Linked DNA regions of Homo sapiens. The protein of the gene in region 3 interacts with the protein of the main gene of each other region in a pairwise test. Each region holds a gene or a part of one and is shown on either strand. Other genes may lie near its edges. The genes, in order: TNKS, AKAP9, FNBP1 and DNM1.

What was found.
Region 1: the proteins of FNBP1 (region 3) and TNKS interact in binary tests that used the Homo sapiens proteins (3 or more experiments, as listed by UniProt).
Region 2: the proteins of FNBP1 (region 3) and AKAP9 interact in a two-hybrid assay, tested with the Homo sapiens proteins (one study listed by BioGRID).
Region 4: the proteins of FNBP1 (region 3) and DNM1 interact in binary tests that used the Homo sapiens proteins (3 or more experiments, as listed by UniProt).

The regions. Positions count from the first base shown.
Region 1 is NC_000008.11:9,775,906-9,782,875, reverse strand, and holds the end of TNKS (poly [ADP-ribose] polymerase tankyrase-1), read right to left. Parts: intron 6,227-6,970; coding exon 6,140-6,226; 3' UTR 530-6,139; downstream 1-529.
Region 2 is NC_000007.14:91,999,861-92,006,895, forward strand, and holds part of AKAP9 (A-kinase anchor protein 9), read left to right. Parts: intron 1-987; coding exon 988-3,375; intron 3,376-7,035. UniProt on the Homo sapiens protein: Scaffolding protein that assembles several protein kinases and phosphatases on the centrosome and Golgi apparatus. Required to maintain the integrity of the Golgi apparatus. Required for microtubule nucleation at the cis-side of the Golgi apparatus.
Region 3 is NC_000009.12:129,893,156-129,900,190, reverse strand, and holds part of FNBP1 (formin-binding protein 1), read left to right. Parts: intron 1-86; coding exon of another isoform or gene 87-89; coding exon 90-226; intron 227-4,194; coding exon 4,195-4,353; coding exon of another isoform or gene 4,354-4,373; exon of another isoform or gene 4,374-4,930; intron 4,931-7,035. UniProt on the Homo sapiens protein: May act as a link between RND2 signaling and regulation of the actin cytoskeleton. Required to coordinate membrane tubulation with reorganization of the actin cytoskeleton during the late stage of clathrin-mediated endocytosis.
Region 4 is NC_000009.12:128,213,379-128,220,378, reverse strand, and holds part of DNM1 (dynamin-1), read right to left. Parts: intron 2,149-7,000; coding exon 2,075-2,148; intron 1,798-2,074; coding exon 1,648-1,797; intron 1,331-1,647; coding exon 1,127-1,330; intron 392-1,126; coding exon 293-391; intron 199-292; coding exon 38-198; intron 1-37. UniProt on the Homo sapiens protein: Catalyzes the hydrolysis of GTP and utilizes this energy to mediate vesicle scission and participates in many forms of endocytosis, such as clathrin-mediated endocytosis or synaptic vesicle endocytosis as well as rapid endocytosis (RE).

The DNA.
Region 1 (6,970 bases), on a different chromosome or scaffold from region 3:
AGTTACTGTACAGATAAAATTCTAGGTTCAAATTTGCTATGTAACGGACCCCTAGGCATGGAGAAAGAAGAGGGGAAGAATGGAAGGATTTTCTTAGTCCTCTGCGCCAGGCACTGTGCTAAGTATTTAATACTGACTGTTGCATGAAGCAGGCGTTCTTCCCCTCCGTCTCCCCCGAGAGGTGGAGAAGGTGAGTCTGTGAGCAATCATGTTGTGCAAGGCCCCTGGGCTGCCTTTGGACCTGGTAGGAGGTCTGGCTCTAAAGTGTCAGCCTGTTTGTTTAAGAGATATTTCTGAAAGGAACCCATGTTGCCCGTGCTATTGCAGAAGTTATTCAGTAACTGCCATGTGGGCTGAGACGTGAGGATAAGTCACTTAAAACCCAGGTCTCACTGGAAGATGGAGAGGGAGGGTTGGTATTTGTATTCTGACAGTTTTTCAAGTCAGTTGTGTTAAGGTTGGTCAGGCAGAAATGAACAAGCAGGGCAAAATGAAAATACTTAAGAGCTAACTGCTATCCACACAAGTGTACTTTAAAAATGGTTTTATTGAATATTAATCATTTACAAGTACAGTGAGCTAGACATTAAGCCAAAGCACAATTGCAGGTTAAATATAATCACAAAGATGTCTTAAATAGAAACCCACCAGGCAGGCAGGTTAAGTTCCTTGATGCCCTCCTTTGGAAAGAAGTGGAGGGTGAGGGAAAAAGGACTTCCATTTCAGGTGACGAGATGATGACTAGAGGACTTTAACATGCTGTAGGTGATTTCCCATGACCACAGCTGTAGGATTGCCAGATTTAGAAAAACCAAACAATGAGAAAAACCAGCATGCTCAGTTAAATTTGAATTTCAGACAAATAATGAATGCTTTTACTGTAAATATATGCCAAATATTGCATGAAACATTCTTAACGTGAAATTGTTTCTCTGAAATTCAAACTTAACTGGGCATCTTGTACTTGATCTGACAATCCTACAAATAGATAAATACAAAAAAGAAAGGAGAGGGGGTTGTAACCCCTGCCACTGTTGGGTCACACAGAGACTAAAAATAAAAACAACACGAATAATGAACCAAAGAGTCACTACACTGGTTGCTCACACAGACCAACATCACAATGAGAAAACACAATTACTACTCCGAGTGCTGTTGCCAGGCAACATAACATTTTCTCAAAGCTGGTTTTGTAAATGTTTTGAGAAACCTTGATAAAAGTACCTTTTTAGTTTGTAGGTATCAAAGACAAACATTACTACTACAAAGATAAGATGAGCTTGAAACAATGGGAGCAGAAGCAGGTGTTATATGCACATGAAGAGTTTCAGTGTTTTGTGTCACGGAGACAATGTTTACATACTCAAGGTCATCTTCTAGGTCTAGGCTATCGGCCTCAAAGATCTGTGTTCTTTCCTAACTTTGAATGGGTTTTCTAGCCTTTCATCCTGAACTTTGGGAGGGGTGCGCGGGTGTGTGAGGGACACCCCACTACCAGGGTTCAACTGCATTTCTCTGCAAACACTCTGAATCAACACAAGGGCTTTCAGGGCTGCCTGCAGAAATGGGTAGACTGATGTAAAAGAAATCACAGAACAATCTGAATTCTGGAACGTGAAAGAAACCTCTTTGAAAGGATGGGAGGTAGGGCAGGTGCGAAGACGTGAAGTGTAAAGCAAAAAAGAATGTGAAAGGAGGAAAAGCCGAAATGCAATCTACAGTGCGAATGTTATTTCAGAGGAGGCAGAACTCTCTGGCAATGTATAAAACTCGTCATACTACGACCATATTTGGTCGTGCAAAGTATATAAAATCATTAGCTTCCTCTAGGTTTTCACTTTAGCATAACCATAATTTACATTTTAAAACAATTAAAAAACACAGCTTGCATATCACTCATATTCTACAAGGTATCACAGTTGCTGTCGTATCCCCACATACACAACTGAATAGGCTTTGAAATCTTTCCAGCACTTCTCCAAACCAGAAATCTGGTAGCTGAGGAAGTTCCAATATGGAGAAATTGAAATGGATTAATTTTAATCAGCTCCATTGCATGTAAGGGAATATTACTTATGAAATATACCATCATAAAATAAGATGAACAGGTCTGAAACACATGGAGACATGGCCGACTCACTGACACACCTTTCAAACACTAAGAAATGGGACTACAATGTTTTATTTATTAAAATATAAAAGGTTAAAAAGTTTCCGCCATAGTTAAGGCTTTCTAGAGGGGAAAAATTTAATTTATTAATGGCAGAGTGCACAAGTTGCTGAAGAAGCCTCATGTTCTAGAATAGTAGTTTTCGAGTGCATTTGCTTTCCATATGCTAGATGTGTACAATAGCTCAAACATCACTTTCACAATTACTTTCTTTTCACTTCTGTCACTGATCTGACATTAAACAAATTTGACTTTACTCTTTAAATACGTATCTGACATGAAATCCTATCTTAATGGCAGTTTTGAATACCTGCCAAATTAGTAAGGTCTATAGCTTTACGTGAGACAATTAGTCCAACAGAAAACACAAGAAGAAGGCTATTTGTCACAGATATCACACAAGAGGGATTCGGATACAATGGGGGAAAGGTGCTTGAAAATACACACCACTTCTGTTTGCAAGGCCATTTACAGGAATCCAGATAGTGCACATGTTAAAAAGGCGGGGGTGGGGACAATGCCCAATAACCCTTCGTGCCATTGGGAGAGACACTGAAACAGAAAAACCTAGACAACTTATTGCATTCTAATGCCGTTCTCCGGCATATATCAAAATTTTATTTTTTGTAAAACGGATACAATAATAGAATGTTAATCTACATTATTTGCTTGCCATATTCAGGCATTTCTCTGTATACTTCAATGCACTTTGTATTTTGAGAGCAAAGGGAAATCAGTCTAGCCACTAACATCAAGCTCAAAGAAGTATAAGGATGCTATTTCATGAAAACATCCTAATGTTGATTCTACTTATGCTGCTTGAAAAGCTAGAAATTCCAAACTCCAAGAAGGAAAAGGAAAACAAGAATCCTGGTTGCACTGCTGTTATTTTGCATCGAATCAAAACTCTGGGTTCCATGCTGTCATTTGTTAACAAAGCGGCAGTGTTCTGAGCAAAGCGCATGAGGCCTAATACCCATTCCTGGTTGTGATACAAAAGCTAGGAGGTATCTGGTCTCCTTTTTTAAGACCCAAGATGAGGAGAAAATGAATGGAGTCAAAGGTCATTGCTGGAGCTAATTTTAATTCCAGACTAGTAATTTAGGAAAGAGGGAAGGAGGTCAAATACAGGGAGAAAGTTCGGGACCAGGGCACTTAATTTATGCCTGAGTCAAGTATCCAGCAGGCCAACAGCAGGTAAACTGGAACCATCAGGTCTGGAGAAGCCCTTTAGTTTTGGAACTCGGGTAGAGCCGGTGGAGACGTTCAGATTCTTTCTTCCATGTGGTTAGGGAAACAGAGGGGCCATTTCGGGGTAGGCCATATTGGATGATCCTAACTTGCTAGTATTTCTATATAGTACATATACAAAAAATAAAAGACTTCAGCCTAATTTAATGCCATGCTTTTATATTGGAAAGGGTTCTTCATACGGCTACAGATGAAAATCCCAAATGTAATAAACTTGTCCTAACTTTTGAGTGCACTCATGATGACCTTTGGTTTTCAAGTTCTGAAAAAAATGTATTTGGCTCCTCTGATATATCCATTAACCCACTCTCTTAAGCAGATGAGTAATATATGCACACTCTTTCAAGAACTACTATATACTTGAATCATTATAGGACAAGAAGCACCGCAAATGTCTTCCTTACACAGTACCTTCACCTGGCACACAGAGCATGAGACGTATAACACTGGCAGTTTAAATACTGAACCACAGTTTAACTTCTCAAGTGTAAGGACCAAGATGAAAACTGGCGCATCCATTCATCTAGTTAGTATGATGGAAACAACATACAACCACAGTTAGGTAGTGGTTTATCTTTTTAATGAAGCCATAAAGCTTTCCATATCTATATCATATTAACTCTTTTACTTAACTAAAAATCACAGCTGTGTTTACCATTTTAAACTACGTCTGGGGGAAGGTAAGTAAGACACACTTGACAGCTACTGAAAACTACACAGATGGCAATTTCTTCAACCCTTTGTTACAGCAAAAGAGAAGGAAAGAAGGGGAAAAAAAGCCCTCTTAATGAATATCAACTCTCAAAGCTTCACCTGGAATTCTAGTGCTATTAAACAAGTAGCCAAGACACAAACACCCAGCTTGGGTCACTGAAACTTCAAAAGAAGCAACAACTGAGGCTAATTCTCGATTTAATTTTGAGGACCCATAAAAATTCAGCTACAAACATTCAAACTAGTCTGGATGCCTAGTTCCAGCACTGGGTTGAAGCCAAAATCAAAGCAAAATGTATATATTTTAAGAGTCTATTTCTAGAAGTTTTGCATGTAACCATTTTATTTTGCTTCAGGAGATTAAAGGAGGTCACAGCTTAATCACCTTGCATTAAACCCATCGTTTTCAGGGCTTTGAATTGCAATGGCAAGTTTGTGTCACACTGTCTTTCCTATTCCTCCTCGTGTTTATATTTCTTTCGCTTCAAAGCAGAGTAGATGCACAGTATATCAAGTAAATAAGTTAGTGCACTCAATTCATATTCAGTTAAGGTGAAAAGGGCAAGTGTAAGAACTATAAAGGATCATTTTTTTTTATAAATGTCAATGGCACTTGGTAAATGTTGATGAAAATAAACAGTAATTTCACAAAGAAAATTGTATGGTATTTCTTTCTCACCTTCATTGAAAAAATAACAGAAAGGGCTTTGGTTTCAATTTTTGTTCTCCTTGTCTAAACACACTAAGAAGTTTGAAGAAATGGTTCAGAAATTTAATGCAAGGATCTTTATGAACTATTTGAAGCATGCCACTCAAAATAAACCCCAAATCTGGAGTAAACAAAAAAGTCCTTGCATTTGTGTGTATCTATCCACTATTCGAGTCTGAATCCCAGCATTCTCAACTAAAGAAACAATCAAGTGGTATTTTTGTGACCCTCATCAAGTGCAGTAATTTCACTGACTTTTGAAATAAGGCAGCTAATTTGGAGGGGTAACAATCCCAACAGTACAGATTAAGGGAAGGGAAGCATGTATTTTTTGGAGGCATCCCCTGGATCCATTGGGGCTGCCATGATACAGAACCACACGCTCCTCACCCTCCTTAATGCAGCTCTTCCTTCACAGCCTCCCCAGTTTTTTCACCTTGGAACTCAAGCCCGTGTCAACCTGCATCTCCAGTACTGTCCCGAAGACCTCTGTGGCAGGCTTGTGTTGGAAAGAGCAAGTGGCCTTCACCGGCTTTGACTTCTCTGAATTTAGGCGTTCCTAAGTCAGGTTGGTGTTTGTGCCCTTCTCTTGTAAGATAGGCCAATTCATAAAAAGGTACTAAAACTTGATGTTTTTTCCTTTTCATCTCAATTTATGATAACGAGAAGTGCAGCTACAGAGCAAAATAAAAAAATTTTAAAAAGTGGAAACTGAATCTTGCTCAGCCAGAAGCTTGGGTTGCACTGCTAATGATTTTGTCAGCGTGACTTTGTGCAAAATATCCTCAAGAAGGCTCTGGCTCATTTTCAAAGTAACCCAAAAAACACAAAAAAACAAAAAACAAACAAACAATAGCCAATGATGCATGTCTGGCAAATCAAAAACAAGCTTGTTGCCTGTCGTATGTGTATATTTGTTATAGACACGTCATGCATAACAAAACAAATGTAGTGTGTGAATTGTGAACATTTGAAAAAGCATTGGTTTTCTTATTTTCCATTTCCAAGTCTAGATCGAAGCAATCTTGTTTTAGAAATGGATAATTGCAATGAAAATGAGCCTGAGATATGTTAAAAGGCCGCCCCTGTAAACATTTCCTCAAAGGGAACAGTAGCAGTTGAGTATGTATCAGTTACTCATACTATTCATCACTATAGCAATGCTTTATAGAAGACAAACAGCTTATTTCTAGGCTGTCAGGGACTTCTAGAATATTGATGTTGTTATTAGAAACAATCCTCTGTAATCCAGTCCCAGGTTGAAATCTGATCTGGCCTTCACCAGCAGGCATTCACTAGGTCTTCTGCTCTGCGGCTGTTGCGGTCTGGGAAGGGGCTTCTGGCTTCATGATCTGGTAAGTGATAAGATACTCTGGGTATGCCTGGGAAGGACAAGAAGAAAAACAAATCACCCTTCTAGTAGGCACAATATTAAAGCCTTGCCGAATGTGGAAGCCTCAAAGGCTGTTAATCGTGACCAATATTCTATATAGACTCAGTTTCTTAATAGGTGCCTGAACAATTTGAGGTTCACCTACTTAACTGTAAATAAATGTGTATAAACCCTACAATCTAGAAAACTGAATGTTATTTCTACTTCGAATACTGTCAATTAAGCTCCATTCATCCCTTATTAGAGAGCCATGTGTCATAAGCAGGGAAACTAAGGCCCGAGGTAGCACTAATATCTTTTTCACCTCACAGAGCATTGGTGCTGTCACACAGCGTGTGTTCAATAAAAGTTTGCTAAATGAAAGAAAAATTTTGCTGAATCCAGTCCAAATTAATCATAGAAGATGATGTAACCCACTGAGCTAGAAGGAGTAAGGGTGAGATGTACTGAGTCACCAATAACCCAGAAACAACAGTTTGGGAACAATATTTAAAAACTGACTACTCAAAGGCATCATTTACAGGAGAGATAAGGGCTCCGATTTAGACTGGCCTCCTTCATATTCTCTTTCTCTTTTTTCTTGCAGTCAGTAAAACACAAGGCTGTGTCTGGAATGGGAAGAGTTCTTCTTGGTGGGAGCAGGAAAAAGGAGGCTGATCAGAGGAAGCTGCTGAAAACCTAACCAGAAATTGCAGTGAAGGCAGCAATTTGGAAGGAGAGGTAGGACACCCCT
Region 2 (7,035 bases), on a different chromosome or scaffold from region 3:
CATTCATTCATTCATTCATTCAAGGCACCTTTAAGTCCTGTTTGCCTGGGACTCCTGTCTCTTTAAAATGATTTTACTTACCTACTTATGTCCTGATCCATTCTGTAGATTTCATGTATTTATTTGTTTTTGAGACTATAGCCCTCTATTACTTACAGAGGCAAGTAAGTTACTGAAGCAAAACTTTGACCTAGGGCCTCTGCTTGACTTTGTCATGCTGAAGTAATCACCATAACAGATATGCCTTGGCCTGTGTCTGGGCGTAGCCCTATCTCCATTCCAAAATAGAATCCCAAATAAGAACTGGGGGAGAGTATCTGCTTTGCTTTGAAAATTCTGTTTAAACCAAAAGTCCTAGGACCAAGTTGTTATGCCATAAATGGTATAGTTGTCTTAGATGTCACTTGAGGTTCAGCCTTTTAAGCATTGCATATCTCTAAATTTCTGACTGACTTAAGAGCCCAGGACTGAAGTTAAGACAGACCGTTAGGAGTCTGTTTTTGTTGTTTTTCTTTTTCCATAGCCCTTGCCCATGACACACATTGAAGTCACCAGAATACATGTGAGGAACTTTTATTTATTTTTATCTTTCTGAATGTGTCTAGAGTATATGCAGTACTTTAGCTATAGAGAATACTAAATATTTAGAATGTTGATCAGTTAATAAGAAAAATGAAAATGTAACAGTTTGGAGACATCTAAAATCAGACTGGGTTTTTAAACTAAAAATTTTAATCACAGAAATGTTAAGAGAAATTTCTTCTAAGAAGGCCAAAACTACTGTAGTGTTTGCTCACAAGTAGTGTTGGTTACACGAGTTCTAAGTGTCATTATTGTGGAAAAAATTGAGGGGCAGGACCAACATTTACTTTTTGTAGAATTTTTTAAAAGAGAAACTTCTGTCAGTCTTTTGGTAATGAGATGAAGCAGTATAATTTGCCAGAAGCTAAAAATGCCATTCTTACATTTTCATTTTTTTTCCTAAAGGAACAAGATAAAAAAGTAGAAAACTCAAATAAAGAAGAAATACAGGAAAAGGAGACAATCATTGAAGAATTAAACACAAAAATAATAGAAGAAGAAAAGAAAACTCTTGAGCTAAAGGATAAATTAACAACTGCTGATAAATTACTAGGAGAATTACAAGAACAGATTGTGCAAAAGAACCAAGAAATAAAAAACATGAAATTAGAGCTGACTAATTCTAAGCAAAAAGAAAGACAGTCTTCTGAAGAAATAAAACAGTTAATGGGGACAGTCGAAGAACTTCAGAAGAGAAATCATAAAGACAGCCAGTTCGAAACTGATATAGTACAACGAATGGAACAAGAAACACAAAGAAAGTTAGAACAACTCCGGGCAGAGCTGGATGAGATGTATGGGCAGCAGATAGTGCAAATGAAACAAGAATTAATAAGACAACACATGGCACAGATGGAGGAAATGAAAACACGGCATAAGGGAGAAATGGAGAATGCTTTAAGGTCATATTCAAATATTACAGTTAATGAAGATCAGATAAAGTTAATGAATGTGGCAATAAATGAACTGAATATAAAATTGCAAGATACTAACTCTCAAAAGGAAAAACTCAAGGAAGAACTAGGACTAATTTTAGAAGAAAAGTGTGCTCTACAGAGACAGCTTGAAGACCTTGTTGAAGAATTGAGCTTTTCAAGGGAACAGATTCAGAGAGCTAGACAGACAATAGCTGAACAAGAAAGTAAACTTAATGAAGCACATAAGTCCCTTAGTACAGTGGAAGATTTGAAAGCTGAGATTGTTTCTGCATCTGAATCCAGAAAGGAACTAGAATTAAAACATGAAGCAGAAGTTACAAATTACAAGATAAAACTTGAAATGTTAGAAAAAGAAAAGAATGCTGTGTTAGACAGAATGGCTGAATCACAAGAAGCTGAATTAGAGAGGCTGAGAACACAGCTTCTATTTAGTCACGAAGAAGAGCTTTCCAAACTGAAGGAAGATTTAGAAATTGAACATCGAATAAATATTGAAAAACTTAAAGATAATTTAGGCATTCACTATAAACAGCAGATAGATGGTTTACAGAATGAAATGAGTCAAAAGATAGAAACCATGCAGTTTGAAAAGGACAATTTGATAACTAAGCAGAATCAATTAATTTTGGAAATTTCAAAGCTAAAAGATTTACAGCAGTCTCTTGTAAATTCAAAGTCAGAAGAAATGACTCTTCAAATCAATGAACTTCAAAAAGAAATTGAAATACTCAGACAAGAAGAAAAAGAAAAGGGTACACTTGAACAAGAAGTTCAAGAATTACAACTTAAAACAGAATTGTTAGAAAAACAGATGAAGGAAAAAGAGAATGATCTTCAAGAAAAATTTGCACAACTTGAAGCAGAGAATAGCATTCTTAAAGATGAAAAGAAAACCCTTGAAGACATGTTGAAAATACATACTCCTGTTAGCCAAGAAGAAAGATTGATTTTCTTAGACTCCATTAAGTCCAAATCCAAAGACTCTGTGTGGGAAAAAGAAATAGAAATACTTATAGAGGAAAATGAGGACCTCAAACAACAATGTATTCAGCTAAATGAAGAGATTGAAAAGCAAAGGAACACTTTTTCATTTGCTGAAAAAAACTTTGAAGTTAACTATCAAGAGTTACAAGAGGAGTATGCTTGCCTTCTCAAAGTAAAAGATGATTTAGAAGACAGTAAAAATAAACAGGAATTAGAGTATAAAAGTAAACTTAAAGCACTTAATGAAGAGCTTCATTTGCAAAGAATAAATCCAACTACAGTGAAAATGAAAAGTTCTGTCTTTGATGAAGACAAAACTTTTGTAGCAGAAACATTGGAAATGGGTGAGGTTGTTGAAAAGGATACAACAGAACTCATGGAAAAACTTGAGGTAACCAAGCGAGAGAAATTAGAGCTGTCACAGAGACTGTCTGATCTTTCTGAACAATTGAAACAGAAACATGGTGAGATTAGTTTTCTAAATGAAGAAGTTAAATCTTTAAAGCAAGAGAAAGAACAAGTTTCATTGAGATGTAGAGAGCTAGAAATCATTATTAACCACAACAGGGCAGAAAATGTACAGTCATGTGATACTCAAGTAAGCTCTTTATTAGATGGAGTTGTGACCATGACAAGCAGGGGTGCTGAAGGATCAGTTTCTAAAGTAAATAAAAGTTTTGGTGAAGAATCAAAAATAATGGTGGAAGATAAAGTTTCTTTTGAAAATATGACTGTTGGAGAAGAAAGTAAGCAAGAACAGTTGATTTTGGATCACTTACCATCTGTAACAAAGGAATCATCACTTAGAGCAACTCAACCAAGTGAAAATGATAAACTTCAGAAAGAACTCAATGTACTTAAATCAGAACAGGTATGTTTACTTCTTCATATATGGTAAAGCACAATGAAAAAAATGTACATTTCACACTAAGGTTTCACCTTCATAGAACATAAGTTCATATCCTTACAAGAGAATGAAAATGAACCCTCTGATGTAATTTTAACTTGAGCCTATCATTTATTTATCATTTAAGTACTTTTTTTTTTAAACCATTGTTGCCTTTCTTTCAGTTAATCTATCTTGTATATTCTGCTCAGGAAATAAAACACTAATGGATTCAGATTTTCTTTGGAAAGACAAGAGTTTGTATAACTTTATGGAGAATCTCAGCATTAGAAAAGTTATTAATTTCATTTTGTAATTTTTGTTATAATCTCAAAGATTGGTTTCAGCGTTTTTATTTCATAGTGATGTTTTCAAGTCTCTACAACTGAAAATGAACTCCTAAGCTTTTTAATAGTCTCTATAGTTGTTAGGTGGTTATGAAATTATATTTTCCTGGGAGAAAAAAAAACCTTTGATTTAAGTCCTAGAGTTTTTTCAGAGTCTTTATTATACCTGAAGGGGAAAAAACAGTATTAACTCTAAATATAGTTAAAGAATTATATGTATATAATAATAGATCACTCCTGATAATTTATATTTGCCAGATACTGATATTAAAATAACAGGAAAATTCTGCTATCTACAATGTAATGGTGCTAACTAAAGTTTTATGTGTTTCTTCATTTTTCTAACATATTTATTGACTCTCTTGGCAAGTACGAATATAGTGGCCAACAAGAGAGAGGTTTCTGGTCTCAAAGAGCATATATTTTAGTGAGGGAGGCAGATGATAAATGAAACAAGTAGGATAGTGAGAAATAGTGATAAATTCTCTGAAGAAATAAAACAGGATAATGTGATAGGGAATGATGGAATTATTTCTGAGGGCTCTGTTCTGTTCCATTGGTCTATATCTCTGTTTTGGTACCAGTACCATGCTGTTTTGGTTACTGTAGCCTTGTAGTATAGTTTGAAGTCAGGTAGCGTGATGCCTCCAGCTTTGTTCTCTTGGCTTAGGATTGACTTGGCAATGTGGGCTCTTTTTTGGTTCCTTATGAACTTTAAAGTAGTTTTTTCCAATTCTGTGAAGAAAGTCATTTCTGTGAAGAAAGTCATTCCTGATGGGAATGGCATTGAATCTATAAATTACCTTGGGCAGTATGGCCATTTTCACAATATTGATTCTTCCTATCCATGAGCATGGAATGTTCTTCCATTTGTTTGTATCCTCTTTTATTTCGTTGAGCAGTCGTTTGTAGTTCTCCTTGAAGAGGCCCTTCATATCCCTTGTAAGTTGGATTCCTAGGTATTTTATTCTCATTGAAGCAATTGTGAATGGGAGTTCACTCATGATTTGGCTCTCTGTTCGTCTGTTGTTGGTGTATAAGAATGCTTGTGATTTTTGCACATTGATTTTGTATCCTGAGACTTTGCTGAAGTTGCTTATCAGCTTAAGGAGATTTTGGGCTGAGACGATGGGGTTTTCTAGATATACAATCACGTCATCTGCAAACAGGGACAATTTGACTTCCTCTTTTCCTAATTGAATACCCTTTATTTCTTTCTCCTGCCTGATTTCCCTGGCCAGAACTTCCAACACTATGTTGAATAGGAGTGGTGAGAGAGGGCATCCCTGTCTTGTGCCAGTTTTCAAAGGGAATGCTTCCGGTTTTTGTCCATTCAGTATGATATTGGCTGTGGGTTTGTCATAAATAGCTCTTACTATTTTGAGATATGCCCCATCAGTACCTAATTTATTGAGAGTTTTTAGCATGAAGTGCTGTTGAATTTTGTCCAAGGCCTTTTCTGCATCTATTGAGATAATCATGTGGTTTTTGTCTTTGGTTCTGTTTATATGCTGGATTACACTTACTGATTTGCGTATGTTGAACCAGCCTTGCATCCCAGGGATGAAGCCCACTTGATCATGGTGGATGAGCTTTCTGATGTGCTGCTGCATTTGGTTTGCCAGTATTTTATTGAGGATTTTTGCATCGATGTTCATCAGGATATTGGGAATGTTGGAGAGGGTAGTAACAACATTAAATATGGTGGTCAGGAAACATCTCTAGGAGGAATTGACATTTGAGCTGAAATCTGAATGACATTGAAATTAGAGCAATTGTAAAGACACGGGTAAGTTTAAAGAACAGAATGAAGGCTTGTGTAGTTGAGTTTGAGAGAGCGGGAGAGTGGAAGAAGAGTTTGAAGGAGGAAGAGACCAGACCTTGGAGAATCTTGCAGACTTTGGAAGCCATTGGAAAGTTTTCTCTTTTTATTCCTAAATATATCATATTTATGATCTTATATCAAATGTCGAGATATTTTATATTTATGATTTATATCAAATGTAGAGATATTTTATATATTTACTTGCCTAAATAGAGTCAAGAAATTCGAATTGCTTAACGATTTTTTTGTTTGTTTGTTTTTGAGACCGAGTCTCACTCTGTCACCCGGGCTGGAGTGCAGTGGCGTGATCTCAGCTCACTACAACCTCCGCCTCCCGGGTTCAATCAATTCTCCTGCCTCAGCCTCCTGAGTAGCTGGGATTACAGGCATGCACCACCACCACGCCTGGGTAATTTTTGTATTTTTAGTAGAGACAAGGTTTCACCATGTTGGCCAGTTTGGTCTCAAACTCCTGACCTTAGGTGATCCAACAGCCTCGGCCTCCCAAAGTGCTGGGATTACAGGCGTGAGCCACCATGCCTGGCCAAATTGCTTAACTGTTAATGTTCTGTTAAATGTCTGGAATTGTTTTCAAAACCAAAATGTATGGCAGTTACTTGTGAAAATGTCACACATCTTTTAAAATTTTTTAGGAAGCATTTTTGGGAGAAGACCTGAATTTGACCCTCAGATGGTCAAATTTTCTTATTAGGAATTCTAATTTTCTTTTTCTTTTTCTTTTTTTTTTGAGACAGGCTCTCACTGCCGTCCAGGCTAGAGTCTCATGGCGCAATCACAGCATCCTGCAGCCTTGACCTCCTGGACTCAGGTGATCCTCTCACCTCAGCCTCCTGAGTAGCTAGTATTACAGGCATGCACCACACACCCAGCTAGGTTTTTGTATTTTTTGTAGAGACAGGGATTTGCCATGTTGCCCAGGCTGGTCTCAAACTTCTGGGCTTAAATGATCTTCTTGCCTTGGCCTCCTGAAATGCTGGGATTACAGGCATGAGTCTTTGTCACCAGCCAGAATTCTATTTTCTGTACTAAAGAGATACTAAAAAGATACTTTTGATGGCATTCAGATTCCCTCTATTTGACATTGACTACATAAAGTAAAGCCTGTAAACTTCCTGCCCGTTCATCATTACCAAGACAAACCTTTATTGATGGGAAGGGAAGTTCACAGAAGAAATCGAGCAGTGACTTACACAATAGTAACACCTAAGAGCAGCCTAAATATGCTTGAAATAATGTGGATGCCACACAGATATCTCTAATACACTTAGGTAGTTTGGGCAGAAGGAGAAAAATAAAAACATCATAGAAGTCTTTTCAGTGTTGGGATGCAAGGAAGAAGGAAGAGTGGCAGGAATTTTTTAGATACTGATTAATTATTGATGCTGGGAGAGGTCATAGATTGAAGTGTATGTGTTTAAAATTGAAGATGATTATTAGAATCAAAAGAGATAC
Region 3 (7,035 bases):
TGCAAGTGCTCTCCAGTCGCAGGGACTCAATCTGAGTCCTCCCTGGGGTCAGTCGCTTTAGTTGCTTTGTGTTTTCCTTTCTTGAGCAGCCCAGATGGCAGTTACACAGAGGAGCAGAGTCAGGAGAGTGAGATGAAGGTGCTGGCCACGGATTTTGACGACGAGTTTGATGATGAGGAGCCCCTCCCTGCCATAGGGACGTGCAAAGCTCTCTACACATTTGAAGGTGACATTTCATGTCTGCTGGATTCCCCTGCCTTTTATAAACCATAATATCTGAGTTACTCTTCTTTCACTTTTCCTTCCTTCCTTCCTTCTGATCATTTTTATTCCTTTGTCCTTCCTTCCTTCCTTCCTACCTTCCCTTCCCCTTCCCCTTCCCCTTCCCCTTCCTTCCTTCCCTTCCCTTCCCTCCCTTCCCTTCCTTCCCTTCCTTCCCTTCCTTCCTTCCTTCCTTTTTTTCATACAGGGTCTCGCTCTCTTGCCCAAGTTAGAGTGCAGTGGTGCAATCATGGCTCACTGCAGCCTTGACCTCCTGGGCTCAAGTGATCCTCCAACCTCAGCCTCCTGAGTAGCTGGGACTACAGGCAAGCACCACCATGTCCGGCTCATTTTTGTACTTTTGTACTTTTTGTACTTTTCAGTAGAGACAGGGTCTCACTATGTTGCCCAGGCTGGTGTTGAACTCCTGGATTCAAGCAGTACTCCTGCCTCAGCCTCCCAAAGTGCTGTGATCACAGGTGTGAGCCACTGTGCCTAGCCACACTCTTCTCTTTCTGTGACCAGAACTTTCTTTAGAAGCCTTCCAGATCTGGCCGGGCATGGTGGCTCACACCTGTAATCCTAGAACTTTGGGAGGCTGAGGCGGGCAGGTCACTTGAGGCCAGGAGTTCAAGACCAGCCTCGCCAACATGGTGAAATCCCATCTCTACTAAAAATACAAAAACTGGCTGGGCATGCTGGCAGGCGCCTGTAATCCCAGCTGCTCGGGAGGCTGAGGCACGAGAATCACTTGAACCCGGGAGGCGGAGGTTGCAGTGAGCTGAGATAGCGCCACTGTACTCCAGCCTGGGTGACAGAACGAGACTCTGTCTCAAAAAAAAAAAAAAAGCTGCAGCAGCAGCCTTCCAGATCCTTCTCTACTATGCTTTTATCCTACTCATGGTATGATTATTATTTGGTTGTATATTTTGACTTTTGGTTCGTATAACTTAACAGCTTCCAGAGAGCTTGCTTCACTGCAGCAGACGATAGGGAGGATGATCATTTCATCCATTCATTTAATATCTAGTATCTATAGCGCTCCTGTCTTGTAAAGGCCCATGAAGTGGGGGGATGCAGGTCGTATGATATGGCACCTGCCCAGAGGGAAATCAGGCAGACACACTTAAGGAGCAAGCAGCGGCTGGGTGCAGTGGCTCACGCCTGTAATCCCAGCACTTTGGGAGGCCGAGGCAGGCGGATCGTGAGGTCAGGAGATCGAGACCATCCTGGCCAACATGGTGAAACCCCATCTCTACTAAAAATACAAAAATCAGCTAAGCGTGGTAGCGCATGCCTGTAATTCCAGCTACTTGGGAGGCTGAAGCAGGAGACTCACTTAAACCAGGAGTCGGAGGTGGCAGTGAGCCGAGGTCGTGCCACTTTACTCCAGCCTGGCAACAGAGCAAGACTCCCTCTCAAAAAAAAAAAGCAGGCAGTTTGCAGTGTTTGCCAGAAGAGGGATACAGAGGAACGGGGAGGACAGGGGAGAATGAGGTCGCTTCCTTAAGGAAGTTTGGAGAACTTGCCATGGCATGGGGGGTGTGGCCAGAAATGGGTGTGGTGTGGCTGGAGCTTAGATGTCTTAAGTCCTAATAGTGAAATGTGGCACTAAAGAGTGGGAAGTGCCAATGGGGGCGAGGTAGGGAAACATCTGGGTTTTATGTGGCAAACATTGAGGAGCTATGGGAGGTCCCCTAGCAGGGTGTCGATGCAGTCAGAGCTGTACCTTAGGAAAGTCATCGTCAGATGTGTAGGATCCACTGGAAGACATGGAGGATGGTTAGAAAGACTAGCCCAGGCCGGGCATGGTGGCTCACGCCTGTAATCCTAGAACTTTGGGAGGCTGAGGCAGGCAGATCACCTGAGGTCAGGAGTTCTAGACCAGCCTGCCCAACATGATGAAACCCCGTCTCTACTAAAAATACAAAAATCAGTGAGGCGTGGTGGCGGGCGCCTGTAATCCCAGCTACTCGGGAGGCTGAAGCATGAGAATTGCTTGAACCCAGGAGGCAGAGGTTGCAGTGAGCCAAGATCGTGCCATTGTACTCCAGTATGGGCAACAGAGGGCAACTCTGTCTCAAAAAAAAGAAAGAAAAGATAAACTAGCTTAGTGTTTCTAAACCAATGAACCTTGAAACGATGTCCTGCAGAGCGTTAATAAGGAGGCCATGAAAGAAGCTCTCAGGCCAGGCTCAGTGGCTCACACCTGTAATCCCAGCACTTTGGGAGGCTGAGGCCAAGAGTTCAGGGCTACAGTGAGCTATGATCGTACCACTGCACTCCAGCCTAGGCGATAGTGTGAAACCCTCTCTAAAAAATAAATAAATAAATAAATAAAATTACGAAAAAGTTGCATTTTAATATAATGAATAAATTTTTAAAACTAGCAATCAGAGCTCAAGTAAGTTTGGGAAGCCCTGGGATAAATAAATTTTACAGATTTCTTTACTACAGGACTTTTCAGAGCCTTTAATAGACTAAATGTTCATTGTGACAAAATAAGAAAGACGTACCAGTTTAAACGTTCCCAGTTTTACTTCATATTCCAACCATCCCCCACCGTACCCTGTTGCCCTGTTAACAGCTCCCTAAACTCTTTGCCTTGCAGAAAACTGGGGGGTGGTGGGCAGCCTTTGAAATGATCCTAGCAGAAGGTCTTGGGGGCCTTGTTCAAGGAATGGATACAGAGATGCCGCCATTGACAAACTGCATATATTCGGGGCTGATCAAAAGCCAGGAACAAAAAGGAGAGGAAATCCAAGACGGCTCCCAGAGTTGCATTCCTGGGAGGACAGAGAGGTCTAGGGAAGTGGAAAAGCAGGAGGATATAGTTAGGAGGAAGAACAGTGAATCCAGGTTCATCTATGTTGTTTCAGGTGTTGGGGCCATGTCTAGGTGGCAGTGTGCTGCAGACAGTGGGAAAAGTGGAATCTTGGCTGCAGAAAGTACCAGAATGGAAGCAATATGTGAGGACAGTGTTTAAAGAGGAGCAGTTGGGCCGGGCGTGGTGGCTCACGCCTGTAATCCCAGCGCTTTGGGAGGCCGAGGCGGGTGGATCACCTGAGGTCAGGAGTTCAAGACCAGCCTGACCAACATGGTGAAACCTCGTCTCTACTAAAAATACAAAATTAGCCGGGCGTGGTGGCACATGCCTGTAATCTCAGCTACTCGGGAGGCCGAGGCAGGAGAATCACTTGAACCCGGGACAAGTGGCATCACACTCCAGCCTGGGCAACAGAGCAAGACTCTGTCTCAAAACAAACAAACAACAACAACAAAAAAATTGGGAGGCTGAGGCTGGTGGATCACCTAAGGTCAGGAGTCAGACCAGCCTGACCAACATGGTGAAACCCCATCTCTACTAAAAATAGAAAGGTTAGCCGGGTGTGGTGGTGCACACCTATAGTCTCAGCTGCTCGGGAGGCTGAGACAGGAGAATCGCTTGAACCGGGGAGGTGGAGGTTGCAGTGAGTTGAGATTGCACCACAGCACTCTGGCCTGGGCAACAAGAGCAAGACTCCATCCCCCACAACCCCCCCAAAAAATAACAGACAAAAGAGAAGCAGTTGGAGCCACGAGGGTACCTTTCTCCTGAGAGAGATCCAAGTGAGACAGAAGAAGACTAGAGAAGAGAACCAAAGATTTATCCAGTGAGAAATACTTACCATTCTGGGAGGGAGGAGAAAGAGGGCCCTGGAGGACTTAGAGAGGGTCCCTAGAGAGACAGAGGTAAGAACCTGGACATTTCTGTGCAGAAGGAGATGGTTTTGAGGCAGTGGGTGAGGGGTCCGTGCATCTGAGAAGGTCCGAGTGGGGTGAATTTTGTGTGGACTTCATCTTCGACGACACTTGTTTCATTGCGAAGGCCACTGTTTGCTTCCTCCCTGCATTTGCCAAGACATCTAACATATCCTGATATTGCTTTTTCAGGTCAGAATGAAGGAACGATTTCCGTAGTTGAAGGAGAAACATTGTATGTCATAGAGGAAGACAAAGGCGATGGCTGGACCCGCATTCGGAGAAATGAAGATGAAGAGGGTTATGTCCCCACTTCATATGTCGAAGTCTGTTTGGACAAAAATGCCAAAGGTGCTAAGACTTATATTTAATACCATAAAAAAAAAAAACTTAAAAAAAATGGAGTTGTTTCTCCCCACAACCATGACTGTTACAGGCAGTTCCTCAAGAGACTGGCTGGCAAGCACCATAATGCACGTTCTCCTGTAGTCTCACGTGGACTTCAGGGTCTGGGCACCTGAATTGCCTTGTCTAGTTTGGGCTGTAATCAAGTTTCACTTGCTGATGAAATTTTATGTGGAAAGCTGCCAACCGCCAACTTACAGCTATGTCATTCAAAATCTGATAAACATTTCTTCTTTTGGCGGTATCTGTAGATTAAAAAAAAAGTTGCATTGTAGCTTCTCATCTTTCTGAATTTAAAAGCCGGCACGCATCATGCAGGTGCCAAAGACTTCCCTACTCTTGTTTATATCTAGTATCCACCATACACTGAGCTACATTAGGTGGTTACAGATTGTAACTTAATAAACTGAACTGTGTTAGTTTGTTAAATTGTATACTCATTCACTTGGGAGGAAGTCACAAGTGAAATAACATCTCCTTCTTGACTAAAGCAGTAAATAAGATTCTTATATTGGCACCAAAAGTGTGTGTTTTTACTTAAACCTGGTCAGCATCCTTGGTAGGGCATCACGAGTACCCTGTTCCATCTACATGATCCCAGACAACCAGCTGAAATCTGGAAAAGTTTGGTGAATTGACCACTTGATTTTTACATTGCATTGCTGATTTTCCAAGTGTCATCAAATTGACAGGTTTTTGTTGTTGTGTTTGTGTTTTTGTTGTTGTTGTTGTTTTGAGACAGAGTCTGGCTCTGTTGCCCAGGCTGGAGTACAGTGGCTCACTGCAACCTCCGCCTCCCCCAGGTTCAAGCGATTCTCCTGCCTCAGCCTCCCGAGTAGCTGGGATTACAGGTGTGCACCACCACGCCTGGCTAATTTTTGTATTTTTAGTAGAGACGGGTTCGCTCTGTTGGCCAGGCTGGTCTCAAACTCCTGACCTCAAGTGATCTGCCTGCTTCTGCCTCCCAAAGTGCTGGGATTATAGGCGTGAGCCACCGCACCTGGCCCAAATTGACAGTTGATCAGATGTGCTAGTGCTGTTTAGATGGAGTTACTTAAAAGGCAGAGCGTGTCCCTGCATCAGCTCCTTTTGGCTGTGATTTCCTCTCACACTTGGTTCGGTTTCTGTTGGTTTTCCAAGTAGAGCTGCACTCACGCTTGCCCAGGTGGGGCTATAAAGAGAACGTGGTGTGGCAGCAAATGCTTCTCCCCACAGACACAGATCTCAGCACATTGCTGTTCAAAGACTTTGGGGGTTTGCTTTTGTTTTTTTGTTGTTGTTGTTTTTGTTTTGTTTTGTTTCTGCTTTTAATCATTGGCAAGGTTTGGATTTACTGGAAATTATTTTAGAATTTCTGGCTCATTTTATACAATTAACTGTAGCCAGAATGAAGTAAAATGTCTCACCACATCGAAAGGAATCTAGGCCACATGAGAATTTGCATTTTTAAATTGGCATTGATGTGGGAGGGGAGATAGTGAAGTTGGTCACATGCGTAGATGGTTGCCAGGCATTTCACTGTGCCCATTTCCAGAATCCACCCCGAGATCATAGACAACCCACTACAAATGGGTCAGAATGAAGGTGTTGGGTCAGATTCTCTTTTTATTTGATTTTGAAAATTATTTCCTTGTGTCCTTCCTACTTTCAAGTAGGAAATTAGCCCCTGCCTGCCTCTACATTGTGGGTTCATTTGATCAGCTCAAGTCCATTTAAAGCTGATTTTCCAAGCAGTAGCTGCACATTCGGGCTCTAGAACCTAGTAGGGGTTCTGGATGCTAGGGGCCGTGTTTCAAGATTCTCACAGCCAGTTAACCTTTATTTAGTGACAGCCTGATTTTTTAAAAAACTTTTTTTTTTTTTTTTTTTGAGATGGAGTCTCGCTCTGTCGCCAGGATGGAGTGCGGTGGCACAATCTTGGCTCACTGCAACCTCTGCCTCCTGAGTTCAAGCGATTCTCCTGCTTCAGCCTCCCAAGTAGCTGGGACTACAGGCGTGTGCCACCATGCCCAGCTAATTTTTTGTATTTTTAGTAGAGACAGGGTTTCACCGTGTTAGCCAGAATGGTCTTGATCTCCTGACCTCATGATCTGTCCACCTCAGCCTCCCAAAGTGTTGGGATTACAGGCATGAGCCCGTGCCTGGCTTTTTTTTTTTTTTTTTTTTTTTTTGAGACAGAGTCTCACTCTGTCACCTAGACTCAAGGGCAATGATACAATCCTGGCTCACTACAACCTCTGCCTCCCGAGTTCAAGTAATTCTTGTGCCTCAGCCTCCCCAGTAGCTGGGATTACAGGTGCCTGCCACCACACCCGGCTAATCTTTGTATTTTTTTTTTTTTTTAGTAAAGACAGGTTTTCACCATGTTGGCCAGGCTTGTCTCAAACTCTTGGGCTCAAGTGATCCGCCCGCCTCAGCCTCCCAAAGTGCTGGGATTACAGGGTGAGCCACCGTGCCAGGCCCAAATTTCTTTTGGATACTTTTGCTGGCATAGTATCAATAAAGCCACCCATCCCGACCCCAGGCCTCTTTGTAGATATTGCAGCAAGAAAATCAGCTGACCCTTCAACCACAAGGATCTGTTTAAATGAGCAGTAGGAAGTTTCCAGCTTTACCCAGTAAACAAGT
Region 4 (7,000 bases), 1.7 Mb from region 3:
TTGTTTCCCCAGGCCCCATCCTGGCTTGGTCGCCTACCTGATTGAGGACCTTCTGCAGGTAGGGCGTGCCCATACGGTCAGCCAAGTGGCGATAAGATGGATGGGAGAGGAAGAACTTTCGTTCAGCAGCCAAGGCGGCGGTAATGTCCTTCTTGCCATCAATGTCCTTCTGGCTCCGGTTCACCACTCCAATGTAGCCTGTGAACAGTATCAAGGTCAGGGCAACCAGCCTCAAGAGGAGGGGAAGGGTGGGGAAGGGCTGGGGAGTGGTTGAGGGGCATGGCCTGCTTACCTCTGCGCAGGGGGAGCAGCTTGTTCTCCAGCACATCACGGGCATCTGTGCCCTCGTCCATCAGGTCCAGCTTGGTGATGACCCCGATGGTGCGCTGGCCTGGGTGCACCAGCAGGAGGGCCGTCTACAGCTGCACCCGCTCTCACACACAATTCCATGCACTCCCACTCCCATCCCCCTGCTCTCCTCGGCCCCCTGCCTGCTCACTGCCTCCTCTCTTTCCCCCTTATTCATTTTCCACAGAGTAGCCAAAATGATTTTTATTTATTCTTCTTGTTTTTTTATTTGTTAGAGATGGGATCTCGCTTTGTTGCCAGGCTGGTTTCCAACTCCTGGCTTCAAGCGATCCTCCCAAGTTGGCCTCCCAAAGTGCTGGGATTACAGGCATGAGCCACTGCACCCAGCCTTTTTTTCTTTTTTGAGACAGGGTCTCACTCTTGCCCATGCTGGACTGCAGTGGTGCGAGTAGGGCTCACTGCAGCCTCAACCTCCTGGGCTCAAGTGATTCTCTGGCCTCAGCCTCACGAGTAGCTGGGACCACAAGCGTGCACCACGGTGCCCGGCTAATTTTTAAATTTTTTGTAGAAATGGGGTCTCACTAGGTTGCCCAGCCTTGTCTCGAACTCCTGGGCTCAAGCAATCCTCCCGGCTTGGCCTCCCAAAGTGCTGGGATTACAGGCATGAGCTACCATGCCTGACCCCCAAAGTGATTTTTAAAGGTACAAATCTGATCCCACCGCTATTCTTAGACCGTTCAGAGGCTCCCCTTTACACTAAGAATAGACAGCCTGCAAGCCTGGGGTTTTGTGCATTGGCCACCGGGTGGGAACCTACCCTGGGGGTCCACCTCCTTGGCGACCTTGAGGGCGTCAGAATTGGCCAGGTCAGAGTTGGCGGGGGACACGGCCAGGATGAGGCAGTTCTCCTTGGTGACAAACTGCATAAGCATGTCTCGGATCTGGAACTCGATGTCGGGAGGTTGGTCCCCCACCGGGACCTTGGTCATTCCGGGCAGGTCCACCAGGGTCAGGTTCAGCACTGGACAGGGCGGCGAGAGGGCGGGCTCAAGGCGAGGGGCGTGGCCGCGGGCGAGGTTAAAGAATAGGGCGGGGTTAGAGAAGCTGCTTGGGAGCAGGGTGGCAGGTGGGTGGGACTAGGAAATCTCAGGGCGAAAGTGGCAGTCTGTTGGAGGCGTGGCCGGAAGTGGGCGGAATCACGGCAGGGTGGAGCTTGGAATAGGATGATGCAGAGGCAGGGTCATTCTAGGGGCGGAGTCTGCAGGAGGAGCGAGGCACGCAGAGGTGCGTGGCCAAGAAAATGATTCTTAGAGGTTAGGGCGGGGCCAGGGTCCTCACCGTGCGGCGAGTAGACGCGGAGGTTGATAGGCACCGGCGAGATGCCCTTGTTGGTGCCGGTGACCCTGTCGGTCTCGGCCTCGATCTCAAGGCGCACCTCCTCGAAGTCGGTGAATTTCTTTCCCTTGCAGTGCAGGAACTCGGCATATTCTGCTCCAGAAGCGGGCAGGGGAAGGGCAGTAGGCATCAAGGTCTGGAACCCCACCTGGGGGTTTTCATCTCCCACCGGTAATAGAACCCCCTAGACACACCCAAGCAGAACCACCACCCACGTCTCCATTATGTATTTTGATCCCCGCTATCCCTAAGGGGAACGAGGCCCACAGTCACACAGCAAGCAAGTTCGTGGCCAGGCTGGCCCTCAGCTTGGGGACGGGGGAGAGGCTGGAGTGGGCAGGCCTGGCTGCTGGTGAAGGAGGGCACGTACCTGTGGTTGCATTGACCAGCTGCAAGACCAGGGGACGTCGGGTGACAATGCCAGATCCTCGAGGCAAGAAGTCCCTGCAATGAGTTGGAGGTCAAAGGAGGGTCAAGATATGAGGGGGCGCCCTCTGTCCCAGGGGTACCTGTCCGGCCCCTGGGAAAGCCAAAGCTCCTTCCAAAGTGCTGGCTCCACCGCTCCTTAGCCCAGGGGCTTCAGGTAACTAAGAGCATATGGCAGCCCAGAAAGGTGGAAAATACTTTTCCTCAAGTCGCCTGGGTCACAGAATTTATGCATCTGAGCTGCCAAGAGACTGGATCAACTCCTAGATACGTCCTGTGTTGGTTTTGAACCAATAGGAAGTCCCTGCCCCAACTCAGCCACGGCCATTCAGCCCCAGAAAACTGAGGCATGGGGTCTCCCACATGCCTATGTGTCCAATGCCCACAGAGTGGATCCCAGGAAACAGAGCTGTAACTTCTCCCCTCCCTTCCGCTGTGGGGCAGGGCAGCATCTCACTTCCCCTTCTCCAGGCTCCATATGGCTAGGGTTGAAGAAGAGTGGGGAAGGAGGTGGCAAGGAAAAGGACTCATGGGCCGGGCGCGGTGGCTCACGCCTGTAATCCCAGCACTTTGGAGGCTGAGGCGGGCGGATCACCTGAGGTCAGGAGTTTGAGACCAGCCTGGCCAACATGGTGAAACCCTGTCTCTACTAAAAATACAAAAAAATTAGCCGGCGGGGTGTCAGGCACCTGTAATCTCAGCTATTTGGGAGGCTGAGGCAGGAGAATTGTTTGAACCCGGGAGGCGGAGGTTACGGTGAGCCAAGATCGCGCCATTGCACTCCAGCCTAGGCGACAAGAGCAAAACTCCACCTCAAAAAAACCCACAAAGAAACAAAAAAACTCATGCTTCTTAGTGCCTACTGCATGCCAGGCGCTTAGTGGGGCTCCATACTGTAGCCCCATGAGGCAGGTGCTGTTATTACCCCCATTTTGCAGATGAGGGAGCTGCACCTTAGAGACATTCAGGTTGCACAGCCAGTATCTGGCAGAGCAGACCCTGGTCTCGGATATATTTGACTCTGCAGTGACACTCCCCTGCCCTTCAGCCCCCTGTGAACCGAGCCGCCTTTGAAGGACTGGACTGAGAGGTCCCAAAGTCATCCCCCGTCCCCAGACCTGACAGTCTATAGCTTAGACATCTGCTCGTGCCAATGTCAACCTCAGCTGTCCTTTTGGCTGACTCTTGTGGGTGCCGGTTCTCTGTCCAGTCAGCTCTTTTCATCCACCTCCCTCTGCACCACCCTCCAGCTGGCGCAAGCACAAGGGTGAAGGCCTCTCCAGGAATCAGGATGTCAGAATTGCCAGTCATGGGATCTCCAGGGCCCAGGAAAGGGGGGAACAGGTTGAAGCCCGAGGGACCATTGAGACACAGCCAGCGCCTTATTCATGGAGAGGCCCAGGGAGGGAAAAAGATACATTCAAGCTCTACAGAGCCAGAGGTGGAACCCAGGTCTCTTGCTCCCAGCCCAGAGCCTGACCCAGACTCACAAGTCTTCTTGCACCCCAGGGTCAGGAGCTAAGGGTCTTAGGTACAACAGACTAGACCCAGAGCTCCTAGGTTCAAAGCCCCCTCTTGAAGCCTCTCCACTGCCTCACGTCTGGGGAAGTGGACGCTGCTGGGGAGGAGTCAGGAATTATACTGGAGAAGGAGAAGGATGGTAAGCCCTGTGTATATTCATCATTTCTGCGCACCAGGCAAATGCTTTTCATTCTTGCCAGACAGTGAGCAGGGCAGCCTCTTTCTGTCTGCCACTGTATCCCAGTGCCCAGGACAGGGCTTAGCACACAAGGGGCACTCAATAAATTCTGATTGAATCTCCAAGTCCTCGAATCTGTGCTCTGATATAGAGATTATCATTTTACAGAGGAAGCAGCTGAGGCTCAGAGAGGTGAAGTGACTCACCCAAGGTCACACAGCAGAGTGGGGATTCAAAGCTGAGTGTCTGTTGGACCCTCAGCCTGGAAACTTCCTCATTCAATGGTGCTGTCTCAAACCCAAGAAGCCAGACTTGGCTTTTTATGTAATTCAATTAAATTCAGTCTGTGCCGGGCCCTGTGCCGGGCTCTGGGGATGGGAGATGATGAGTCAGACAGTTCCCACCCTGAGGAACTCACAGTGTGGTGGGAGAGACAGACAAGTAAACAGATAATGCAATGCAGCGTGGTATGTGCTAGAACAGAGGTGTGCCAGGCGGCACAGAGGGAGGGGGTTTGCTGGGGGGTGGGAGGACTTCCGGTCTCAATCTCTCCCATCCTTTACTCAAAGACTCCTTTGGGGGCGTGACTTCCAGTTTTGGGAGTCCCCCAGGGCTGTGGAGATAGAACAGCTGTTCTCATAGAAGCTGGGGTGGGTGTGGGGGCCGGGGGTCCACCCTCTTCTCCACCAGCTCCTCACCAGCAACACCATGGCAACAGTAGTTGCCATGGAAACTGCAGGAGGGGCTGGAAAGGATGGGACTCCCCACAAAGAGTCCCCCACACAGAGACGTGGACTTTCCCTGGAGTTCTTCCCTGAGAGGCCTCTCCTTGAGCAGACAGGCCCACGCAGCCCTGGTGAGCCTGAGGGGTGGAGGTCTCCAAGGTGCCACATAGCGGGTGTGGGGAGCCCAGGGCCCAGCTGGCAAGAATGCTGGGTGGTCAGGGTCTGGGCCAGCTGCCTGCTGCCTCCCCAGGGCTACTTAAAGGGCAAGTAGCTTCTGGGAAGCAGAGACTAGAGGCAGGGCCATGTCTGGGGGTCAACCCCTCCCAGAGCCAAGATCTCCTGGTGCCCAGATGGGGAGGTGGCCCATCTCTGTCATGGCCCAGGTTCTCAAAGTGAGGCCCTCACGCGGCCTGCATCAGAATGCCTTGGGTAGTTTGTCCAGACGCATGCTCCTCAGGCATGCTGGGCTAGAATCTCAAGAGGGCTTCATGGGGAGGCAGAATCTGGGTTTTAAATGGATCCTCAGGTGGTTTCCACACTCCGTGTTAAGTTTAAGGACCATCTGCCCCATGCTGAGGAGCCAGTGCCAGGCTGGCTCCTTCATCGAATCCTACATTGGCCTTTCCTTGGCCTGGTGCCTGGTGCCAGGACCCGAGAGGTCTGCTTCCCAGTCTCACGTCTGGACTGACAGTGGGGAGGACCAGCAGGTCCCCAGGTCCGGACAATGAGCTCCTCACTCACTTCCGGGTTCCTGCCTGGCACAGGCCCCGCACGTAGTAGGCGTGCAGGCAACACGAGAAGGAATGTGCATGACTCAGCAGCTCCCTAGCTCTTCCCTTTCACCTGGACACACTGTCCCACTTTAGCCCTCTGTTTAAGGGTCCCCTAGGTGGCCCTCCTTCTCCCCAGTGGGGATCCAGACTAGATCCAGCCTCCAGCTCCTGGTTAGGCTAAGGGAGGACAGAACAGGTGCCCAGAGAAAAGTATCAGGCCCACCAGCCTCGGAGGCCGCGTGCTGTGCCCAGCGTGGGAGGGGCGGCTGCTGGCATGCCAGTTCTCCCCACTCATTTGGAGCAGATGGTGGGTTCCCAGGGAGGCTGTGCCTGGCCATCTGCAGAGGCACCTTCAAACGTGAAACATGAGGGGACGAAACAAACACCTCTCAGGAACCCCAAATGCCACACTCCCTGTCTGAACTGGAGTTGTCACCGTGAGAGGGGTCTGGAGAAACTGAACCCAAGGGCTGATGTGACCCCTACCCCTACCCCTACTCTAGGACCTGAGACTTGGGATCAGAGCTCTGGGATCCTGGTTCCCAGGCCCTGCTGAATGCAAATGACCCCAGGAAGTAACGTGCTTAACTGGGCGTGCACCCAGTGCCGGTCATTCTTCTATGCCTCCTCTTTTTTGGGCTCTGATGTCAGATGGACCCCACATTGAATGTCTGAGCTGTCATGTAGGAGCTGTGTGGCTGTGCACAAATGACCATACCTCTCTGAGCCTCAGTTTCCACATCAGTAAAATGGGTTGCTGTGAGGCTTATACAGACTGATGGCTGAACCAATCGTGGCTACTATGATTATAAATAACGATAGCTTGCTGGGCATGCTGAGACCACAGGCTGGACTCCCACAGCCTCGTCACCAGAAGAGGCAGCGGGGAGAGAGTTGGACGGTGGGTTTCCTGGAGGATGGCAGTGAGCTTGGGGGTGAGGGCAGGATATTTCCAGCCAGATCTTGACCCTGGAGGTGGAAGGCAAGGGGGGTGGGCAGGGGCGTGCTCTGAAGCAGGGAGTTGGGGTGCCTGCAAGGGAGTGGGTAGGCCAAGAAATACAGTTGGGAGGAGGTGAGGCTACCCCCAGGCAACAAGTCGCTCTCTGTTCCTGCTGCCCCAGGGGACCCTAGGCAGCCCCGTCACAGCTCATGAATTTCAAGCTGAGGTCTGAACACTGCAGGGCAGTTCTGGCCTTGGCTTTCCTTGATGTTCTGATGGCCCCGGGAGCAGGGACTAGGCTAGACTTGTTTGTCACAATATCCCAGCACCTAGCCCTGGGTCTGGCATGTAGCAGACTCTCAGGACACCCGCACTGACCAAAAGAGGGAATGGAAGATGAGCTCTACCATCGGCTTCATTGTATAGGGTAGAAACTGAGGCACAAAAGGGAAGAGTCTTGCCCAAGATCATGGTGCAAGTTGGTGACAAGGTAGGGCTCCTGAGTCCGGGTAGGTGCTCTCTCCACAGCAATCTTTCTCCCTATTAAGCAGAGCCTATTACCTTCCCTTATTTCTTATCTTCTCATCCTTCCTACTTTCTTTCCCACCCTCCCTCCCTCCCTTCCATCAATCCAAGGGTTGATGACTTTGTATTTTCAAAAGGGAAATAGATCTCTTTTGCCTCTAATTTTTAAAATCATGTGTTCTCCATTTTAAAAGATTCAGAAAATGAC